Homo sapiens: one gene and its partner. The protein of the gene in region 1 interacts with the protein of each later gene in a pairwise test. Each region holds a gene or a part of one and is shown in the gene's direction. Other genes may lie near its edges.

What was found. Proteins that work in one complex are often made in the same cells at the same time.
Region 2: the proteins of RNF34 (region 1) and PANK2 interact in binary tests that used the Homo sapiens proteins (3 or more experiments, as listed by UniProt).

Annotation. Positions count from the first base shown.
Region 1 is NC_000012.12:121,395,860-121,403,128, forward strand, and holds the start of RNF34 (E3 ubiquitin-protein ligase RNF34), read left to right. Parts: upstream 1-4,258; 5' UTR 4,259-4,353; coding exon 4,354-4,359; intron 4,360-6,179; exon of another isoform or gene 6,180-6,236; intron 6,237-6,882; exon of another isoform or gene 6,883-6,939; coding exon of another isoform or gene 6,940-6,948; intron 6,949-7,269. UniProt on the Homo sapiens protein: E3 ubiquitin-protein ligase that regulates several biological processes through the ubiquitin-mediated proteasomal degradation of various target proteins.
Region 2 is NC_000020.11:3,906,372-3,913,397, forward strand, and holds part of PANK2 (pantothenate kinase 2, mitochondrial isoform 7 precursor), read left to right. Parts: intron 1-1,554; coding exon 1,555-1,907; coding exon of another isoform or gene 1,908-1,922; exon of another isoform or gene 1,923-2,254; intron 2,255-4,205; coding exon 4,206-4,459; intron 4,460-6,086; coding exon 6,087-6,263; intron 6,264-7,026.

The DNA of each region.
Region 1 (7,269 bases):
GGGCATGGTGGTGCACACCTGTAACCCCAGCTACTACTCGGGAGGCTGAGTCATGAGAATCACTTGAACCTGGGAGGTAGAGGTTGCAATGAGCCAAGATCGCGTCACTGCACTCTAGCCTAGGCGACAGAGCGAGACTCCGTCTCAAAAAAAAAAAAAAAAATACAATTCAGCTGGGCACGGTGGCTCACGCCTGTAATCCCAACACTTTGGGAGGCCAAAGTGGGCAGATCACTTGAGGTCAGGAGTTTGAGACCAGCCTGGCCAACATGGTGAAACCTCATCTCTCCTAAAAATAAAAAAGTTACCCGGATGTGTGGCATGCACCTGTCATCCCAGATACTCGGGAGGCTGAGGTAGAAGAATCACTTGAACCTGAGAGGCAGAGCTTGCAGTGAGCAGAGATTGTACCACCGCACTCCAGCCTGGGTGACAGAGGGAGACTCTCTCAAAAACAACAGCAACAACAAAAAACCAAACACAATTTACTGGGAGCTTGCTTATGCTAGGTACAGATCTGTGTGCTGGGGACAAAATAAGACAAGTCTTCCCAAGTATTGCACTGTTTTAAATTTTCCCCTGATACTTAAGTTTCTCCCTAGCCTTTGTTGTTTTCATTGTCCTTCTGTGGCCACTTTCCAGCTGCATTAACTCTTCTTTTTGTGTTCCTCAATATTAACAGCTTTATTGAGATATAATTCACATACCATATAATACACCCGTTTAAATTATACAATTTAGTAGTTTTTAGTATACTCACAGAGCTGTACAACCATTCACATAGCTAATTTTAGAACGTTTTCTTTTCCTTTTTTTTTTTTTTTTTTTGAGCAGGGTCTCGCTTTGTCACCCAGGCTGGAGTACAGTGGCTCACTGCAGCCTCGACCTCCTGGGCACAAGTGATCCTCCTACCTCAGCCTCCCGAGTAGCTGGGACTACAGGTGTGCACCACGATACCCAGTTAATTTTTGTTTTTATGTTTTGTAGAGATGGGATCTCCTTATGTTGCCCAGGCTGGTCTCGAACTCCCGGGTTCAGGTGATCCTCCCGTCTCAGCCTCCCAAAGTGCTCAGATTACAGCCATGAGCAATCACACCCGGCCTAGAATGTTTTGTTTTGTTTTGTTTTGTTTTTTGAGACAGAGTCTTGCTCTGTCACCCAGGCTGGAGTGCAGTGGCGTGATCTCGGCTCACTACAAACTCTGCCTCCCGGGTTCACGCCATTCTCCTGCCTCAGCCTCCCAAGTAGCTGGGACTACAGGCGCCCGCCACCGCGCCCGGCTAATTTTTTGTATTTTTTAGTAGAGATGGGGCTTCACCGTTGTCTGGATCTCCTGACCTCGTGATCCGCCCGCCTTGGCCTCCCAAAGTGCTGGGATTACAGGCGTGAGCCACCGCGCCCAGCCTCCTAGAATGTTTTCATTACCCCAAAAGAAACCTGTGTCTAGTAGCAGTCACTCCATTTCCCCCCTCCTCCTTCAGAGACCTTAATCACTACTCTACTTTCTATCTCTATGGATTGGCTTATTTTGGACATTTCCTGTAAATGGAATCATACAATATATAATCTTTTTGTATCTAGCTTTTTTCACTTAGCATTATTATTTTCTTTTTCTTTTCTTTTCTTTTCTTTTTTTTTTTTTTTTTGAGACAGGGCCTTGCTCTGTCGCTCAGGCTGGAGTGCAGTGGCGCAATTTTGGCTCACCGCAGCCTCAACCTCCTGGGTTCAAGAGATTCTCCCACCTCTGGCTCCCGAGTAGCTGGGATTACAGGCGTGCGTCGCCACATCCGGCTATTTTTTTTTTTTTTTTTTTTTGTATTTTTAGTAGAGATAGGGTTTCACCACGTTGGCCAGGCTGGTCTCGAACACCTGACCTCATGTGATCCGCCCGCCTCCGCCTCCTGAAGCCTTAGGACTACAGGAGTGAGTCACTGTACTCAGCCAGCCGCATGATGTTTTCAAGGTTCATCCATGTTGCAGTATGTATCAGTACTTCATTCCTTTTTTGGTCTAATAATATTCCACTGCATAGAGAGACCACATTTCCTTTAACCATTTCTCAGATAATGGACATTTGGGTTGTTTTTACTTTTTGACTATTATGAATAATGCTGCTAAGAACCATTAGCATGTACGTTTTTCTGTGGACCTAGGTTTTCATTTCTCTCGGGTATACACCTAGGAGTGGAATTTCTGGGTCTTATGGTAACTCTGTATGTTTTAACATTTTTGGGCCGGGCGCGGTGGCTCACGCCTGTAATCCCAGCACTTTGGGAGGCCGAGGTGGGCGGATCACGAGGTCAGGAGATCGAGACCATCCTGGCTAACACGGTGAAACCCGTCTCTACTAAAAATACAAAAAACTAGCCGGGCGCGGTGGCGGGCGCCTGTAGTCCCAGCTACTTGGGAGGCTGAGGCAGGAGAATGGCGTGAACCCAGGAGACGGAGCTTGCAGTGAGCAGAAATCGCGCCATTGCACTCCAGCCTGGGCGACAGAGCGAGACTCCGTCTCAAAAAAAAAAAAATTTTTTTTTTTAAGAATTGTCAGGCATTTTCATAGCAGCTGCATCATTTTACATTCCCACCATTCATGTATGAAGATTCCAAATTCTCCACATCCTCACCATCTATTTTCTTTCTTTTTAATGTTACCCATCCTTGCAGGCGCACAGCGGTATCCATGGATTTGATGTGCATTTCCTTGATAGTTAATGATGTTGAGCATCTTTCATGTGCTTATTAACTCTGGAGGTAGACCTGCCAGGCCTTTTCTAATGAGGGACAACCATGGCTTTGTACCCCAAGAACATTTTTATTGAGTTGCTTTGTGTCTAGATCATTAGGAGAATTAATTAATACTTTCTCTTCCAATGAAGCTCAGCTGCGTCCTACATCGTGAATGAAAGGCTTTCTGTACATTTTTCCAAAAAAAACCTAGGACTATTATGGATAAGAAGTGACATTATCTGAGCAGCACTTGAAGCAAGAGAAATACATACTCTGATGCATTATTTCAGTCTAAGGAAGTGGCCTGCCACGCACTCTCTCTCTCTCCGTGTGTTTTAATCTAATATAGCACAACTTGTCGAAGCAAATCTATAATGTATATAAATAACAGAACAGTCTTAGGTCCTCATGAAGAGCGAACTGACTTTTTTATGTTTAAAATCTTAAATACTGGTTAAGTTAGAGGTGAGATTAAAAAGTGTAGGAAAATCGGCTGGGCCCGGTGGCTAATCTCAGCACTTTGGAAGGCCGAGGTGGGCGGCTCACCTGAGGCCAGGAGTTCTAGACCAGCCTGGCCAACACAGTGAAAACCAGTCTCTACTAAAAATAGAAAAAATTAGCCGGGTGTGGGGCGGGCGCACGAAGTCCCAGCTACTAGGGAGGCTGAGGCAGGAGAATCCTTTGAACCCGGGAGACGGAGGTTGCAGTGAGCCGAGATCACACTATTGCACTCCAGCCTGGGCAAGAGCAAGACCTTGTCAAAAATAAAAAAAAGGTGTAGGAAAATAAACTGTCATCCAGTACAGCTGAAGAAATCGATACCTTAATTTACAACCTCAGTTTCTCTGTCCAAAGGCAATTCCAAGACTCGAGCAAATTCTTTTATTATGCTACGATTTTGGTTATTTTGAATACAGCTTTTCAAAGAGCCCTTGGGATTTGAGAGCCCTTGGTTTTCTAAGTGTTTTCAATAAGTCTTGTTTTTAAAGGCCGCGTCCTAGCGAGTGCAGCTGCCGCTCCTTACCGGACCCACGAGTGAGGAGCCCCGAGGTCATCACCGAGCATGAACGCGGGAACGTCTGGGAAGGAAATCTGAGGCCCTGCTCTGACGGTCATAACAAAGGCCTTCGAGCCAACCGGCGTGTTCAAATTCACCACGGCCCTTCCCGCGCTCCCCTCCCCGGAAACTTGACCACCTAGCCCAGAAAGCCGCAGCAGCTTCCTCAGGGACGCTATCTCCCATTTCAAACACCCAACCGAGAAAGCAGCGCCGCAGCGCGCCTTCCGCCACGCCCAGGTCCGCAGGTCTTCGCTCGGGGCGGAAAAGAATCCTCCCCGCGCACTCCCAGCCAGGAGGAACGCCAGAGGCCCCGCCCAATCCCTGTCGCTTCATTGGCTCTGGTGACCGGCCTCCCGAAAGTCGGCTTCCTATTGGTCGTCGTGGCCGCCGCTCTGCGCTTTTACCGGGGCACGCGGCGAGCGTGACCACGCCCCTTACGTCCGGACGCTCGGTCGCCTCCCGGGGCGCGGTAATCACCGCCCAGAGGGAAGGAGGTCGGCAGTGTGAGGAGCTGCTATGGTGCTGAGTTTCCTGGTAGAGCCGGCCGAGCTGAGGCGGTCGCGGCCATGAAGGTGAGGGGCCGGTGGAGCCGGACAGACCCTCCTCGCCAATCCTATCCTGCCAGGGCACCTGAAGCGCCTCCTTTCTTTCCGCCTTAGCGGTTACCTAGTCGTCATCTCGGAGAGCTGCGCTGAGGGGGGTCGCTTGCCCGGCTTCAGGTGCCCCAACCGAGCCAGGGCAGGCTGCCGGACCCTCTCGAGCTCCTCCAGTGCCACCCCCGTCAGCGACCCGAGCGGTGGGGAGAAGCCGGGCGTCCCTAGCGTTCGCGCCGGGTGGGCCCCTCTCTGCGCCGGGCCCTGTGCGCCTCCTCGGGGGCCTGAGGCAGAGCCGCCAGGGCTCGCCTGAGCCTCGGTCCCTTGGCGCGCGGCGTGCCCTTTCCCGCCCCGAGTCCTTGAACTAACCCAAGTGTTGGGGACATCGTGGGACCGAGGAGAACAGGAGGGGTGCAGGGGGTGGTGAGGCTAGGGCCAGGCTAACGGGTTAAAGAACTCTCAGGGTGGGGATGCCACCCGGAAGGGGTGCTTCGTAGGCTGCACGTCGGGGCCGCGAACTAGAGAAGGCTGGATGTGCCTCCATCGCCACTAGGTAAACGCAGCAAGGAATTTGGCAGCTTGAGTTCTCCAAGGTGGGAGTGAGAGCGTGGGAGCATTACTGATGAGAAGTTGAAGAAAAGGGGAAAGGGGAGCGGGGTTTCCGGCCTACTTCTGAGAGATGATTCTCAACCCGATCACTGAGAGTTCTGAAGAGCTTTGTGAACAGCAGTCAGTTCAGGGTATTGATTCATTTGCCGAACTCAAACCAAGTGGGATGAGTCATAAGGTGATGATAACTTTCAGACCTAGATGGTTTCGTTAATCTCAGTGCAGAGGTGTGCTGGGGGTGGGTAATCTAGCAGGTGAGCTGCTAGATTAACGCTGTCTCCATAAAGCGTCAAAGATTTACTATAGAAGATTGAAAAAGAGTGTCAGCTGGTCACAGAAATTCAGCACATGTTTTGTTGAACGTTTTCTGTGCGTTAGCCAAGAGGGAGACATGGTGAAGAGAAGTAATTCAAAATACAGTCTCATCCCTTAGGAAGGCAGTTTACCATTCAAAAGAAGAGTTATTTGTAAGTAACCATATTACAAGGCAGAAGGCTATAGGTATCAAAAAAAAAAAAAAAAAAAAGGCAGGGACAAAACACAGGAGCCAGAAAGGATACTTCTGGCTACAGAAAGCAAGGAATATTTTTGGAATAGGTAACTTTGGAACTGTGCCTTGAAGTATGAGGATATTGTAAAAGCTTATTTTTAACTTTCCAGTTTAGTTATAAAATATTATTACAGCTTGAAATATCTATTAAAGTATCTAGAAGTAGCTTTATTTCCTGAAAACCACCCTCTGCTGTGTTAAGATCCAAAAACAAAGCAGGGATCTTTATATATAATGCCTCGAAGAATCAGTATCTTTATTAATATTAAATTTGTGGCCCATTAAGGAACTAGCTATCGAAGGAAAGAATTAGAGACAGGTCCAGTGTTGAAATTTTTAAACAAGTTCTTTGAAAACAGACGTGTGTTTTGAATTGAAGTGGAAGGTACTACTTTCTAAGATGAAATTTTAGAAACAAAGTTTGGTGGCAATTGAAATTATAGAAAAGATACGTATTTTCAGAAGCAAAATATGGACCTGAATAGACATCAGCCTGTGCCAGATGACAGTTATAAATGATGCTTTTGTTTTTGTGAAACTGGATTTACACCATTGAGGATTTGGGCTGTTAAATGTTTATTATTTAACTTAATGTTGATTTATATTGAAATTGTTTAATTGTGGGTATGCTCATCTGTAGATTTCTGGGCAGAGACTGATTCCTGATGTCATGGAATGCTAACATGTGAATGTTCATGTAAGGAAATACTTCTTTCTGTGGAATTAAAATTACATTAAAAGCTAAGCAAGTATACCTGGCCGGGTGCAATAGCTCACGCCTATAATCCCAGCACTTTGGGAGGCCAAGGCAGATGGATCACTTGAGGTCAGGAGTTCGAGAACAGCTTGGCCAACATAGCAAAACCCTGTCTCGATTAAAAATTATTTTAAAAAGAAAAAAAGGAAAAAAAAAGTTAAGCAGTTAAAAATAAACAAGAAAAGCTAAGCAATTATATGGATAAGTACATGTTCACTCAAACCTGGAGCAGCTGGTTTTAGTATATGTACGGAATGGGTATTTACTTTCTCCCTTTGGCGTTTTGGTTTGGTTTGGTTTGGTTTGGTTTAGAAACTGATGTTTTGAAATAGGTCTTACCTCTCAGACTCAAGTAACTTTTTAACCTTGCAGTAACATCCAATCAACTTCCTATAAGGGATTAAAAAAAAAAATCCAAATTGGTGCCCTGTGTTAATTTGATTTAATCCTCTTTCCCATTTTTCCTTATTTATATTGATCTCACCATTAATTGTGCTAATCTGGGTTCTTCCAAGCTCAAAATGAGATATCAAGGAGAAAGTAATCTACTGAATGTAATTCCTTTTCCTTTTTTTTTCTCTGAAAGGTGGGGGAGTGGTACTAAGGATCAAGTATACTGTTAAAAGAAAACAAAAACCCAAGCATGAGGAAGGTAACATTTGTATCTATAGCACATGTTATTGTAATAATCGATCAGTTTGGCCAATGTCTTGTCTAAAAGTATTACATTTTAGAGTTCATCATCTGTTTTTGCAACCTGCTTAATGTCCAAATGGTATGAGAGAAATAATTTAGGATGTAGAATTCCTTCCTTTGTGGTATATGGTCGGATATTTGGTCACTAAGAAAGAGTTAGGTCCCTGCATATTGTATTTCAGTTGAAGCAGCAGTTTTGATAAGAAATCCTTTCACATTCTAAGGAGCATATGTTTCTCAAATGGCTCTAAATAGGATAAAGAGGCCGGGCGCGGTG
Region 2 (7,026 bases), on another chromosome or scaffold:
TGAGATTGTGGCGTTGCATTCTAGCCTGGGTGACAGTGAGACCTTACCTCAAAAAAGAGAAAAAGAAAATACTGTAAGTCAAAATGCATTTAATATACCCAGCCTATTGAACATCATAGCTTAGCCAAACCTACCTTAAATGTGCTTAGAACCCTTATATTAGCCTACAGTTGGGCAAAATCTTCTAGCATAAAGCTAGATGATTTAATAATGAATAATATAAAAGATAATTATTTTACAATAAAATGTCGAATATCTTGTAATTTATTGAATACTGTACTAAAAATAAAAAAAACAATAAATACTTGAAGTAGAGTTTCTACTGAATGCTTATTGCACCATTGTAAATTTGAAAAATCATTACTTTGAGCCCTCATTAAATTGGGACCTTCCATATGTCTGTGCAGTCCACTTTGATCCAATCTCTTCAGGCCTTTTTTTTCTTTGAGACGGAGTGTCACTCTGTCGCCAGGCTAGAGTGCAGTGGTGCGATCTTGGCTCACTGCAGCTTCTGCCTCATGGGTTCAAGCGATTCTCCTGCCTCAGCCTCCGGAGTAGCTGGGACTACAAGCGCACGCCACCACAGCCAGCTGATTTCTGTATTTTTAGTAGAGATAGTTTCACCATGTTGGCCAGGATGATCTTGGTCTCTTGACCTTGTGATTCACCTGCCTTAGCCTCCCCAAGTGTTGGGATTACAGGCGTGAGCCACCGTGCCCAGCCCTGCCTTTTTTTTTTTTTTTTTTTTTTGAGACAGAGCCTCACTCTGTCGCCCAGGCTGGAGTGCAGTGGTGTGATCTCAGCTCACTGCAGTCTCCACCTCCCAGGTTGAAGCAGTTCTGGTTTAGATTTCCTGAGTAGCTGGTACTACAGGTGCACGTCACCATGCCTGGCTAATTTTTGTTTTAGTAGAGATGGGGTTTTACCATATTGGTCAGGCTGGTCTCAAACTTCTGACCTCAGGTGATCCACCCACCTTGGCCTCCCAAAGTGTTGAAATTACAGGTGTGAGCCACTGCGCTTGGCCTAAAGGACATTTTGGGAACCGGTGTTAATGTCTATTGAAACCTTTTATTTTTGGAATATCAGATTTTGAAAGATAAATTGACCATTGGAGGTTATATGTTACATAGGTTTGGGAATTTCCTGTTTCTAGTTTGCTGCTAAACCAGAACTCTGAAGTCTCAATGTTTTTTTTTAAGCCGATAGGAAAGAGAGATTTTCATTCTGAATCTTTGTTTTTCACAGTTGAGGCTTACGAGTAGTCATCTTGTTATTTTTAAAACACTTCATAGTGCGGTTTGCGCTTGTCTGACAGAATGGTTGGGTTGGCTCAATACTTTGATATTTTTCTTTTTCGTCTTTGCCGTAGTATTTTTTTTTTAAGTTATGCATCTAAATCAAGACAGAATCACATTTCTTTGCCCCAAAACCCTTTTGCCTAGAATTATGTTCTTTGGAAACCCTAGCGTTTGAAATAAGTTGCTACTGTGGTAAGGGTAAATTTAATTTTCAGAAAAAAGCTGTTCTGACTTATTTTTCTTCCCCATTTAGTTTTTCCATGGTTTGGACTGGATATCGGTGGAACTCTGGTCAAGCTGGTATATTTTGAACCCAAAGACATCACTGCTGAAGAAGAAGAGGAAGAAGTGGAAAGTCTTAAAAGCATTCGGAAGTACCTGACCTCCAATGTGGCTTATGGGTCTACAGGCATTCGGGACGTGCACCTCGAGCTGAAGGACCTGACTCTGTGTGGACGCAAAGGCAATCTGCACTTTATACGCTTTCCCACTCATGACATGCCTGCTTTTATTCAAATGGGCAGAGATAAAAACTTCTCGAGTCTCCACACTGTCTTTTGTGCCACTGGAGGTGGAGCGTACAAATTTGAGCAGGATTTTCTCACAGTATGCATTTTTTAGCTTATATACAATTTATGGTAATTTGATTGTTAAAAATAATGCCAGTAGCAAGTGGTGAAATAATTTCCATCTCTAATGGAACTTGAATTTTCTTGAGTCAAATGAAGATTAAAGGTACGCTAGTGATAGGAGTTGGCCATCTAGAGGTGGTTGTCTAGTTCAGATGTATGGACGACAATCAGAACCACTAAAAGGGTAGCATTTTATTGCTCCTTTAGTATGAAAAATTAGGGCATCTGCTATACGTTGAGGAAGAAACTACCTAAAAGGAACATCATTAGATCATGAACAATGAGATTGAAATATAATTAAAATCATTTCATGTCATAAAATTGTTTTCAGTCTTGTCTACCACATAATTTCTCTTGTCTCCCTCAGTTGTTTGCTGGCATGTTCACTAACTGAAAAAAATAAGGAACTCTGGTCAAAAGTGGTGTTTTCAGGCTCAGGGCTGGTCTGAGATGGGTGACTGCAGAGCCCTCCTCTCCCAGAATGCTTTCTGATGTGTTCTGTGCTGCACACTTAACTGGAGTCTCGCCACCATGTCTGGCCCCTGGGGAATGCTGCCAGGCGCTCTATCTTGCTTTCATTGAGTGAACACTGGAGAACATTGTGAGCAAGACCTTGAGGCTAGGTCCTTTCAGGGTGGATGGTGGGGGTAGGCCGGAGAACTGACAAATGAATAAGCCAAGATCCTGACCGTCAGGGTGCAATACAGATTGAAAATGTCTTCAGTGACTGACTGTTTTTCTGTTGCTAAATGAGAGAATATTAGTCTGAAAGAGATTCTGCCTTTTTGTTTTGTTTTGTTTTCTTGAGATGGAGTTTTGTTCTTGTTCCCAGGCTGGAATGCAATGGCTCAACACAACCTCCACCTCTCGGGTTCAAGCGATTCTCCTGCTTCAGCCTCCCAAGTAGCTGGGATTACAGGCATGTGCCACCACGCCCGGCTAATTTTGTATTTTTAGTAGAGACAGGGTTTCTCCATGTTGGTCAGGCTGGTCTCGAACTCCTGATCTCAGGTGATCTGCCTGCTTCAGCCTCCCAAAGTGCTGGGATTACAGGGGTGAGTCACCTTGCCCGGCCCAGATTCTGCCTGTTATTCTGCATGTCTTTTAGTAGAGATGGGGTTTCACCATGTTGTCCAGGCTGGTCTGGAACACCTGACCTCAAGTGATCTGCCTGCCTCGGCCTCCCAAAGTGTTGGAATTACAGGTGTGAGCCACCGTTCCTGGCCTCAACTTTTTGACTAACATGCCTTGGAGTTCTTCCCACTTCAGAACATAAAGATCCTCTTCATTTTTGTTTTGTTTTGAGACGGAGTCTCGCCCTGTCACCTAGGTTGGAGTGCAGTGGTGCCATCTCAGCTCACTGCAACCTCTGCCTCCTGGGTTCAAGAGATTCTCCTGCCTCAGCCTCCCGAGTAGCTGGGTTTACAGGCGTGCACCACCATACCCAGCTAATTTTTTTTTTTATCTTTAGTAGAGACTGGGTTTCACCATGTTGGCCAGGCTGATCTTGAACTCCTGACCTTGTGATCCACCTGTCTCAGCCTCCCAAAGTGCTGGGATTATAGGCGTGAGCCACCGTGCCCGGCCGATCCTCTTCATTTTTAGTTGCTATACAGTGCTCCATAATACGAATAATAATTTAGTCATTCCTTTATTATTTAAATGGAATTAATTGATTATGAAACAGTTCAAATTTTGACTGCTAAAATTCCCCTCCCTCCCAAGAGGCTGTAGCTAGTTTAGATAGTGAAAAAAATCTTACCTTCTAACTGGATACTTTCAGCCTTTTGGCTTCAGTTTGTTAAATAATGTGTGGCCTCTTTTGATACTGCTCCAAAGCCTTGAGATGGTCCTCTGTCACAGTCCTTGTGGCTCCCACCCTGTGTCACAAGGTGGTTTCTGATAGTGCTGTGGCCTGAGCTTGGTATCAGCCCCATTGTCCCTGTAAGCAGAGATCTGAATTTCTGTTTGAAGGTTGATAAATGCTGTGGTTTTTTTTTTTTGTTTTTTTTGTTTTTTTTTTGGTCACACTTATTCAGCTGCTGCAGTAGTTTCTATGTAGAGTGTATTTGGGTCTGTAGTAGCAGGAGTCTGTCTCAGCACTGTGTCCCTAGGTTTGCTCCTAAATCTGTTCTGTAAAGCATGCACAAATAATACACATCTGTGAGTGCACTTTCATGGTTGTTTCACGTAGTGGGGATGCCTTATTGAATGGAATTTTTGTTTCTGTTGGCTTATTAAAAAGTCTGAGTACATTCTTATTTCATTACAGATAGGTGATCTTCAGCTTTGCAAACTGGATGAACTAGATTGCTTGATCAAAGGAATTTTATACATTGACTCAGTCGGATTCAATGGACGGTCACAGTGCTATTACTTTGAAAACCCTGCTGATTCTGAAAAGTGTCAGAAGTTACCATTTGATTTGAAAAATCCGTATCCTCTGCTTCTGGTGAACATTGGCTCAGGGGTTAGCATCTTAGCAGTATATTCCAAAGATAATTACAAACGGGTCACAGGTACTAGGTAAGTTGTATATAAAACTCACTGTTTATTCTTAGTATCCTAACGGGCTGAGTTTTCAGGTATTACATGTAACTACACCTTCAAGAACCTGTTAGGTGAAAGTGTTTCTGGATTATGCAAACAAATGTTTCTCTTTGAAAATTCTGATTTTATGACCTAGTTTTCTTTAATCTCTACTGTTCAAGATTTATTATCCTAGGTGTTTCTTAAAAGATCACATCAGCAGACTCATTGTAGCCTTTGCCCTCAGATAGTTTATGGTGTGCATACACAAAGTAGCTAAAGTTATTAGGCAGCATCTGTAAGGAGAAGGCACGGGAAAGGACCTAGCTCTGAAACCTGTGTAAATTTCATGCTTCCACACACATGTGTGTGTAGAATAATGATGTATTCTATGTATGTGATTTAGAAGTTGATATGTACTGATCAGTAGAAAAATTATTGAGGGAAGGTAGTATGAAAAGAGAGGATTAGCCGGGCGTGGTGGCTCATGCCTGTAATCCCAGCACTTTGGGAGGCTGGGGCGGGTGGATCATGAGGTCAGGAGTTCAAGACCAGCCTGGCCAACATGGTGAAACCCCATCTCTACTAAAAATACAAAAATTAGCCGGGCGCAGTGGCAGGCGCCTGTGAATCCCAGCTACTCGGGAGGCTGAGGTGGGAGAATTGCTTGAATTCAGAGGGTGGAGGTTGCAGTAAGCCGAGATTATGCCACTGCACTCCAGCCTGGGTGACAGAGTGAGACTCCGTCTCAAAAAAAAAAGAAAAGAGAGTATTAGGGCCAGGCACGGCAGCTTATGCCTGTAATCCCAGCACTTTGGGAGGCCGAGGCGGGTGGATCACCAGAGGTCGGGAGTTCGAGACCAGCCTGGCCAACATGGAGAAACCCCATCTCTACTAAAAATACAAAATTAGCCGGGCGTGGTGGCACATGCCTGTAATCCCATATACTTGGGAGGCTGAGGCAGAAAAATCACTTGAACCAGGAGGCAAAGGTTGCGGTGAGCCGAGATCGTGCCATTGTACTCTAGCCTGGGCAAAAAGAGCTAAACTCCATCTCAAAAAAAAAAAATGAGGATTAGATGGAAGAAGAGAATGTTTCGGCTTAAGGGTCAGAGGTCACTTCAGGAAAAACAGGCATCTAGGGATTGGGATAAACAATTTTTTTAAAAAAACAGTTGTGATTTAAATAGAGGAGTAATTTTTTTGTGACAAAACACGTTGCAGGAGGAGTATGTTTGGGGGTGTACTGATAAGCCAGGGTGACAAGGTGCTTGGATGAGAATGACTCAGGGAATGTACTTGGAGAAGGGAAAGGGAGGAGGTGTTAGCATGGCCCCAGGCGTGTCAGGCTAATTTGCACCTGAGGCTCTTCATACTTGGCAGACAGCCAGACTGCACTGGGGACATGGGCCCTGTGTTTTGTACTTTGCATGTTGGCTCACATGCATATGTACCTTAAAGGTGTATATCAGGCACCTTATCTTTTCACAGACTTGTTTCCTACCAGTGGCATTTGCATGATTGGGTTGGATATGTGAATATGGTTTTGGGGTTCATAAATGTTAACTTCTTGTTCTTATTTTTAAAAATGTTATAATACTGTGTTAATTGTTTTTAATCATAGTCTTGGAGGAGGAACTTTTTTTGGTCTCTGCTGTCTTCTTACTGGCTGTACCACTTTTGAAGAAGCTCTTGAAATGGCATCTCGTGGAGATAGCACCAAAGTGGATAAACTAGTACGAGATATTTATGGAGGGGACTATGAGAGGTTTGGACTGCCAGGCTGGGCTGTGGCTTCAAGGTAAGGGGGCATGTGTGTTCTAAGAAATACAGGCGGGCCGGGCGCGGTGGCTCATGCCTTTAATCCCAAAACTTTGAGAGGCCGAGATGGGCAGATCATGAGGTCAGGAGTTTGAGACCAGCCTGGCCAACATAGTGTAACCCTGTCTCTACTAAAAATACAAAAATTAGCTAGGCATGGTGGTGCGCGCCTGTAGACCCAGGTACTTGGGAGGCTGAGGCAGGAGAATCACTTGAACCCTGGAGGTGGAGGGTGCGGTGAGCTCCAGCCTAGGTAACGGAGTGAGACTCTGTCTCAAAAAAAAAAAAAAAAAAAAAAAAGACATAAAATAATAATATTGGGCATATTTTTTAAAAAAGCTCTATTGAGATATAATTTACGTACTATAAAGTCAGCTGTTTGAAGCGTACAATTTAGTGGTTTCTAGTATATTTACAGGATTGTGCAACCATCACTGTAATCCCAATTTTAGGACATTTTTATCATCCTAGAAAGAAACCTTGTGTTCATTAGCTACGACTCTCCATTCCCCCCACAGCCCCTGCCAAACAGTAATTTATTTTCAATGTAGGTTTGCCTCTTCTGAACATTTCATATAAGTGGTATCATACAGTATATGATCTTTTGTGATTACTTCTTCATATAGCATATGTTTTCAAACATTCACATTACAGTGTGAATCAGTACTTTATTCCTTTTTATTGCCAAATAATATTTCTTTTTTCTGAGACGGCGTTTTACTCTTTTTGCCCAGGCTGGAGTG